2 linked regions of the Homo sapiens genome follow. The gene in region 1 interacts genetically with each later gene. Each region holds a gene or a part of one and is shown in the gene's direction. Other genes may lie near its edges.

What was found. Genes that interact genetically often act in the same process or in processes that back each other up.
Region 2: of E4F1 (region 1) and RASSF1, changing one enhances a phenotype caused by changing the other (phenotypic enhancement), as found in Homo sapiens cells (one study listed by BioGRID).

Annotation. Positions count from the first base shown.
Region 1 is NC_000016.10:2,221,276-2,225,019, forward strand, and holds the start of E4F1 (transcription factor E4F1), read left to right. Parts: upstream 1-2,315; 5' UTR 2,316-2,338; coding exon 2,339-2,495; coding exon of another isoform or gene 2,496-2,654; intron 2,655-3,744. UniProt on the Homo sapiens protein: May function as a transcriptional repressor. May also function as a ubiquitin ligase mediating ubiquitination of chromatin-associated TP53. Functions in cell survival and proliferation through control of the cell cycle.
Region 2 is NC_000003.12:50,338,799-50,342,542, reverse strand, and holds the start of RASSF1 (ras association domain-containing protein 1), read left to right. Parts: upstream 1-1,706; 5' UTR 1,707-1,737; coding exon 1,738-1,987; intron 1,988-3,336; exon of another isoform or gene 3,337-3,449; intron 3,450-3,744. Other genes in the region: ZMYND10 (zinc finger MYND domain-containing protein 10), read left to right, coding at 1-146, 403-528, 612-733, 844-969, 1,058-1,133. UniProt on the Homo sapiens protein: Potential tumor suppressor. Required for death receptor-dependent apoptosis. Mediates activation of STK3/MST2 and STK4/MST1 during Fas-induced apoptosis by preventing their dephosphorylation.

The DNA of each region.
Region 1 (3,744 bases):
GGAATCACTGCTTCAAAGGCACAGGTTTCCTTTCAGGGTGCCGGAAAGGTTCTGTACCCACATAGCTGTGATAGTTGCACAACACTGTGAATGTCGCTAATAGTAAATTTTATGTGCACTTACCACAGTTTTTTTTGAGACGGAATCTTGCTCTGTTGCCCAGGCCGGAGTACAGTGGCACGATCTCGGCTCACTGAAACCTCTGCCTCCCAGGTTCAAACGATTCTCCTGCCTCAGCCTCCTGAGTAGCTAGGATTACACGCGTGCACCACCACACCCAGATAATTTTTGTATTTTTAGTAAAGACGTAATTTTGCCATGTTGGCCTGCTTGGTCTTGAACTCCTGATGTCAGGTGATCCACCCACCTCAGCCTCCCAAAGTGCTGGGATTACGGGAGTGAGCCACTGTGCCTGGCCCACAATTTTTTAAAAGTATGTAAGAGGGCTGAGGCAGGCAGATCGCTTGAACTCAGGAGTTCTATAGCAGCCTAGGCAACATGGCAAAAACCCATCTCTACAAAATATACAAAAATTAGCTAGTGATGGGCACCTGTAGTCCCAGCTACTTGGGTGGTTGAGGTAGAGGCTGCAGTGAGCTGAGATCACGGCACTGCACTCCAGCCTGGGCGACAGAGCAAGGTGCTGTTTCAAAAAAAAATCTGGCCAGGCTCGGTGGCTCATGCCTGTCATCCCAGCACTTTGGGAGGCCAAGGGGGACGGATCACCTGAGGTCAGGAGTTCAAAACCAGCATGGCCAACATGGTGAAACTCCGTCTCTCCTAAAAATATAAAAAAATTAGCCGGGTGTGGTGGCAGTTGCCTGTAGTCCCAGCTACTCAGGAGGCTGAGGCAGGAGAATCGCTTGAACCTGGGAGGCGGAGATTGCAGTGAACCAAGATCGTGCCGTTGCATTCTAGCCTAGGTGACAGAGCGAGACTCCATCTCAAAAAACAAAAACAGGCCGGGCGCGGTGGCTCATGCTTGTAATCCCAGCACTTTGGGAGGCCGAGGCGGGCAGATCGTGAGGTCAAGAGCTTGAGACCATCTAGGCCAACATGGTGAAACCCTGTCTCTACTAAAAATACAAAAATTAGCTGGCCATGGTGGTGCACTCCTGTAGTCCCAGCTACTCGGGAGGCTGAGGCAGGACAATCATTTGAACCCAGGAGGCGGAGGCTGCAGTGAGATCGCGCCATTGCACTCCAGCCTAGGTGATAGAGTGAGACTCTGTCTCAAAAACAAACACCCCAAACAAACAAAAACCAAAAACAACCCCCATCTCCAAAACCAAAAATTCAACGTGGCTGGGAGTCGTGGCTCACGCCTGTCATCCTAGCACTTTGGGAGGCCGAAATGGGAAAATGGTTTGAGGCTAGGAGTTTGAGACCAGCCTAGTCTAAACAGCAAGACCCTGTCTCTATTTAAAATACATAATGCAAATAAATTTTAAAAAATTTAAAAAGTGGCTGGGCACGGTGGCTCACGCCTGTAATCCCAGCACTTTGGGAGGCCGAGGCGGGCGGATCACGAGGTCAGGAGATCGAGACCATCCTGGCTATCACGGTGAAACCCCGTCTCTACTAAAAATACAAAAAATTAGCCTGGCGTGGTGGCGGACACCTGTAGTCCCAGCTACTCAGGAGGCTGAGGCAGGAGAATGGCGTGAACCCGGGAGGCAGAGCTTGCAGTGAGCCGAGATCGCGCCACTGCACTCCAGCCTGGGCGATAGAAAGAGACTCCGTCTCAAAAAAGAAAGAAAAAAAAATTAAAAGTATATAAAAGAATAAAACAGCTTCGCAGAGCTACCCATGAGCCATCCCCGACCCGTGTTCTTTTCCCGTGACCCGGGTAACCATCTTGGGAGGCTCTAACACCCTAGGCGGTCAGTGGGCAGCAGGCACCACACCCCTGGTTGGAGCTGTGGCGGCTTCCCAGCAGCAGCCGCGGGCGGGGCGACCTGTCCTTAGGTACGGAAGCGCTGGGGCGCGGCTGCCTAGCAGCCGCCAGTCCGCTCGCCCCTCGCGTTCTCTGGCTCTCAAATCCGAGTGCAGCCTCGAACATAGGTCCTTCTGCCGCCCCGCCCCCTGGCTGGCAATCTGCTCCACCGTAACCACGCCCTCCCCACAGTCCCGCCCCATCTTCGCTCTCAGCGCGCCCGGCCCCGCCTCTGCCCTTTAAGGCCACACCGCTATCCAGGCCCGGCTCCCCGCCTGTCCGTCAATCCGCTCCGGTTCTGCCCCGCCCTCCTCTTGCCGTTCCCTCACGCTGGCCTCGGCGCGGCCCGTTGTTATGACGACATGGTCGTAAATCCGCCATCTTCCTGCGGCGCGTTGCGACATGGAGGGCGCGATGGCAGTGCGGGTGACGGCCGCTCATACGGCAGAAGCCCAGGCCGAAGCCGGGCGGGAAGCGGGCGAGGGTGCAGTTGCGGCGGTGGCGGCGGCCTTGGCCCCCAGCGGCTTCCTCGGCCTCCCGGCGCCCTTCAGCGAGGAAGGTAACCGGGCCGACCCGGAGGGTGCGGCCGGGGTGCGGGCAGTTCATCCCGGGCTGGCAGAGGCCCGGATGGCCCGAGCTGCGGGCTCGACCGACCCTCCCAGACCCAGACACCTCGCGGATCTCGCGGGACCCTCACAGCCCTCCACGAAACCCCCAGGTTTGCTGCGACCCTCACGGGCCTCTCCTGCGGGGCGCCTGTCATCCCCCCTCTCTGGTGTGCGTCCACAAGTGCTCGCGGGTTGCTGAGCCCCCGGGCGCCCGGTGTAGACATTCGCAGACGCCGGCGTCCCGGCCCTTCTCTGCCTCCGATGCCTGAGCCTGGCCCTCCCCTCCTCTGGGCCCCTTCCTCCTGCACCTGATGGGCGTCTAGGGCCCTGTTGGTGGTTCCAAGAGGGTGGGGCCTCGGTTTCTCCAGGATCTGGGCTCTGGGCCTGTCCGTAGGGAGGCAGCAGAGCCTAGTGCAAGAGGGCTGGTGCACTGCAGCCAGCCTGTGGCCCCTTCCAGTCCCACACTTGCCGCTTTCTAGTTCTTTGATCCTGGGTAGGTGACCCTACCTCTGTGAACCTCTATTTCCCCTACAGAATGGGGCGGCGGCTTCTGCCAGTAATGTAACAAGCCCTTATCCTGCTTTAGGTTTTTTCATTCTCAAACCAGTCCTGACAGGTGGATGTTATTGTTATTCTCATTTTGGGGATGAGGAAAATCGAAGGTTGGAGACCTGAAAGTGACCGGGTGGGCTGGGTGCGGTGGCTCACGCCTGTAATCCCAGCACTTTGGGAGGTCGAGACGGGCGGGTCACGAGGTCAGGAGATGGAGACCATCCTGGCCAACATGGTGAAACCCGTCTCTACTAAAAATACAAAAAAACAAAATTAGCCGGGCGTGGTGGCGGGCGCCTGTAGTGGGGAGGCTGAGGCGGAGAATGGCGTGAACTCGGGAGGTGGAGCTTGCGGTGAGCCGAGACCGCGCCACTGCACTCCAGCCTGGGCGGCAGAGCCGGACTCCGTCTCAAAAGAAAAGAAAATGACCAGGGTCACCCAGGTAGTTAAGTAGCAAGGGTTGGATTGGATCTCAGCACTGTGAAGGCCTTCACAGCCCCTTTAACTTCCGGGCTCTGCTGCCTCATAGAAGCATCATGGGAATTAAAATAAAGATTGTGGCCAGGCGCAGTGGCTCACGCCTGTAATCCCAGCACTTTGGGAGGCCAAGGTGGGTGGATCACCTGAGGTCAGGAGTTCGAGACCAGC
Region 2 (3,744 bases), on another chromosome or scaffold:
GTTGGCATACTGTGGCCCCCTCAGAGCAGCAAAAGCTGAGCAAGTTGGACGGGCAAGTGTGGATCGCCCTGTACAACCTGCTGCTAAGCCCTGAGGCTCAGGCGCGCTACTGCCTCACAAGTTTTGCCAAGGGACGGCTACTCAAGGTCAGACTCCCTCCGCACCAGCCCCCACAGCCCCAGTACCGCCCTCCCCATCCTACCCCGACTGCGTCCCTGCTGTTTATCTTTGCCCACCCACCTCAACCCCAGTGCTCTTTTCAGTCCTTGGGCCTCAGGTGACACACCAGCTAGTGGGACATGGGCCCCCACAGGCATTCTCAGCCCAACCCAGCCCCTTCCTTTTCCTTGGCCCCCTGGCCAGCACCTGCATCACACTGGCCTCCACTGGACACCCTTGCAGCTTCGGGCCTTCCTCACAGACACACTGCTGGACCAGCTGCCCAACCTGGCCCACTTGCAGAGTTTCCTGGCCCATCTGACCCTAACTGAAACCCAGCCTCCTAAGAAGGACCTGGTGTTGGAACAGGTAGGCACTGGAAAGTTAGCTGCTCAGGACCACTGTCCCACTTTACCAGCACCTTCCTGCCACTCTCCACTTCTCTCTCCTAGATCCCAGAAATCTGGGAGCGGCTGGAGCGAGAAAACAGAGGCAAGTGGCAGGCAATTGCCAAGCACCAGCTCCAGCATGTGTTCAGCCCCTCAGAGCAGGACCTGCGGCTGCAGGCGCGAAGGTAAGGCCTGTGGAAATGGCAGGGAGGGTGGAGGGGATGCAGGAGGCATGGATGTGGGTGGGGTGCCCCCACCTTCCAGGGCCAGTCAGACCTTCCTGACTTTCCCCCAGGTGGGCTGAGACCTACAGGCTGGATGTGCTAGAGGCAGTGGCTCCAGAGCGGCCCCGCTGTGCTTACTGCAGTGCAGAGGCTTCTAAGCGCTGCTCACGATGCCAGAATGAGTGGTATTGCTGCAGGTGAGGGTATCCTAGAACCTTGGACCTCTAAGCCCTACTCCCACATCCCCCACATGCATTGCCATCCTCAATACCCACCTGCCTGCAGGGAGTGCCAAGTCAAGCACTGGGAAAAGCATGGAAAGACTTGTGTCCTGGCAGCCCAGGGTGACAGAGCCAAATGAGGGCTGCAGTTGCTGAGGGCCGACCACCCATGCCAAGGGAATCCACCCAGAATGCACCCCTGAACCTCAAGATCACGGTCCAGCCTCTGCCGGAGCCCCAGTCTCCGCAGTGGAGAGCAGAGCGGGCGGTAAAGCTGCTGACCGATCTCCCTCCTCCTCACCCCAAGTGAAGGCTCGAGACTTCCTGCCCCACCCAGTGGGTAGGCCAAGTGTGTTGCTTCAGCAAACCGGACCAGGAGGGCCAGGGCCGGATGTGGGGACCCTCTTCCTCTAGCACAGTAAAGCTGGCCTCCAGAAACACGGGTATCTCCGCGTGGTGCTTTGCGGTCGCCGTCGTTGTGGCCGTCCGGGGTGGGGTGTGAGGAGGGGACGAAGGAGGGAAGGAAGGGCAAGGCGGGGGGGGCTCTGCGAGAGCGCGCCCAGCCCCGCCTTCGGGCCCCACAGTCCCTGCACCCAGGTTTCCATTGCGCGGCTCTCCTCAGCTCCTTCCCGCCGCCCAGTCTGGATCCTGGGGGAGGCGCTGAAGTCGGGGCCCGCCCTGTGGCCCCGCCCGGCCCGCGCTTGCTAGCGCCCAAAGCCAGCGAAGCACGGGCCCAACCGGGCCATGTCGGGGGAGCCTGAGCTCATTGAGCTGCGGGAGCTGGCACCCGCTGGGCGCGCTGGGAAGGGCCGCACCCGGCTGGAGCGTGCCAACGCGCTGCGCATCGCGCGGGGCACCGCGTGCAACCCCACACGGCAGCTGGTCCCTGGCCGTGGCCACCGCTTCCAGCCCGCGGGGCCCGCCACGCACACGTGGTGCGACCTCTGTGGCGACTTCATCTGGGGCGTCGTGCGCAAAGGCCTGCAGTGCGCGCGTGAGTAGTGGCCCCGCGCGCCTACGAGAGCGGAAGGGGCAGCCAAGGGGCAGCGCAGTCGCCGCGGGTCAAGTCGCGGCAGAGGGGGTCGGCGGGGACAGCTCCCGAGGACTAGGTCCGTTACTTTCGCCCCATCGCTGAAGAGTGCGCGAAAATGGTTTATCCCTTGTCGCACTCCACTCGTATCTGGGCCACAGATGAGCAGAGGTGGCTGCTTATATGTAAAAATACGCTGATTTTAAGTTTCTTATCTTTAAAATGCCTTGGCCCTTCTTGAGAAAGGGTTTGTGCCTACTGTCCTCGGAGTCCATCTTCCCAGGCTTGCCTCTTCTCAAACACTCATGACCCCCTCCAGAACCTTTAGGGTGAAGGGAAATTACCACCTATGGGAGGGAGCCTGGAAAAATTTAGAACCTTTGGTGGGCCCCCTGCAAGCAGGAGTTTTGTTGAGTCTTTATTTAGCAAACACCCTTTTCTGACCCAGTGAATCAGATGCTAAAATATGCACGCAGCCACACACCCAGCAGTCCTTCTGCACCCCTGGGAATCGCCAGCAAGCAAAGGTTGCTCTCCCCTGGGTAGACACCAGCTGGAATCACCAGGGGTGCTTTTACAGTCCTCCCCGCTAGCCTGGATCCCACCGCAGACCTGTTGAATCAACTGCTGGGAGTGGACCCTAGGCATCAGTAAATTTTAAAAACTCCCCAAATTATTGTAACATGGAGTCTGGGTTGAGCATCACTGCTCTGGCCTATTTAGGAACTTGTGGATGGATAGTGTCCCAGGTCTGTGTGTGCATGGAGACCCTCTCATCCGGTACAAGAGGACATCACAAATTCAGCTGGGGGGAGCACAAAGTTGTGACAGAATGCAAAGAATGAACAAGGGGCCGAGCGCGGTGGCTCATGCCTGTAATCCCAGCACTTCGGAAGGCGGAGGCGGGTGGATCACCTGAGGTCAGGAGTTCAAGACCAGCCTGGCCAACATGGTGAAACCTCATGTCTACTAAAAAATAAAAAAAAATGAGCCAGGCGTAGTGGCGGGTGCCTGTAATCCCAGCTACTCGGGAGGCTGAGGTGGGAGAATTGCTTGAACACAGGAGGCGGAGGTTGCAGTGAGCCGAGATCGTGCCACTGCCCTCCAGCCTTGGCGACAGAGTGAGACTCTGTCTCAAAAAAAAAAAAAAAAAAAAAAAGAACAAGGCTGGGACATTGCAGCGTTCTCAAAGAGAAATAAAGTAGCCATGGAGATAAGAAGCAGGATGATTTGGGCATGTTTATCAGAGGTAGAGACAAGGGAGAAATCAAAGATAAGTTTGGGCTTTTGTCTCCAGTAACTGGGAGCCTAGTGGCCATTTTTGCTGCAAAGAGGAAGCTGGGCAAGTGTAGCAGTGAGGCTGAAGAAAAGGGAATTAAATTTTGGCCATGTTCACTTGAAACGTCTTTTAGACATCCTAGTGAAGGTACTGGCACGGAGGATCTAGTCTGAGGGTTTAGGTCAGTGTTTCAGCCGTGGATCTGGGGCAGATGAATGTAGACAGACCAGGCCAGTGATCAGGACTGAGCCCAGACTTCATCGTGAGATATGGAAGTTGAGTCAGAATCTGCAAAGGAGCTGAGCAGGAGCTGCAGGGGGTAGGAGGAAAACTGGGAGAGTGTAGCCCCTGGGAGTCAAAGGGAGCAAGCTTCAAATGATGCTGAGGGGGTGAGAATGGAGAATGGAACACTGGATTCCATTTGGTAGTACACAGATCGCTG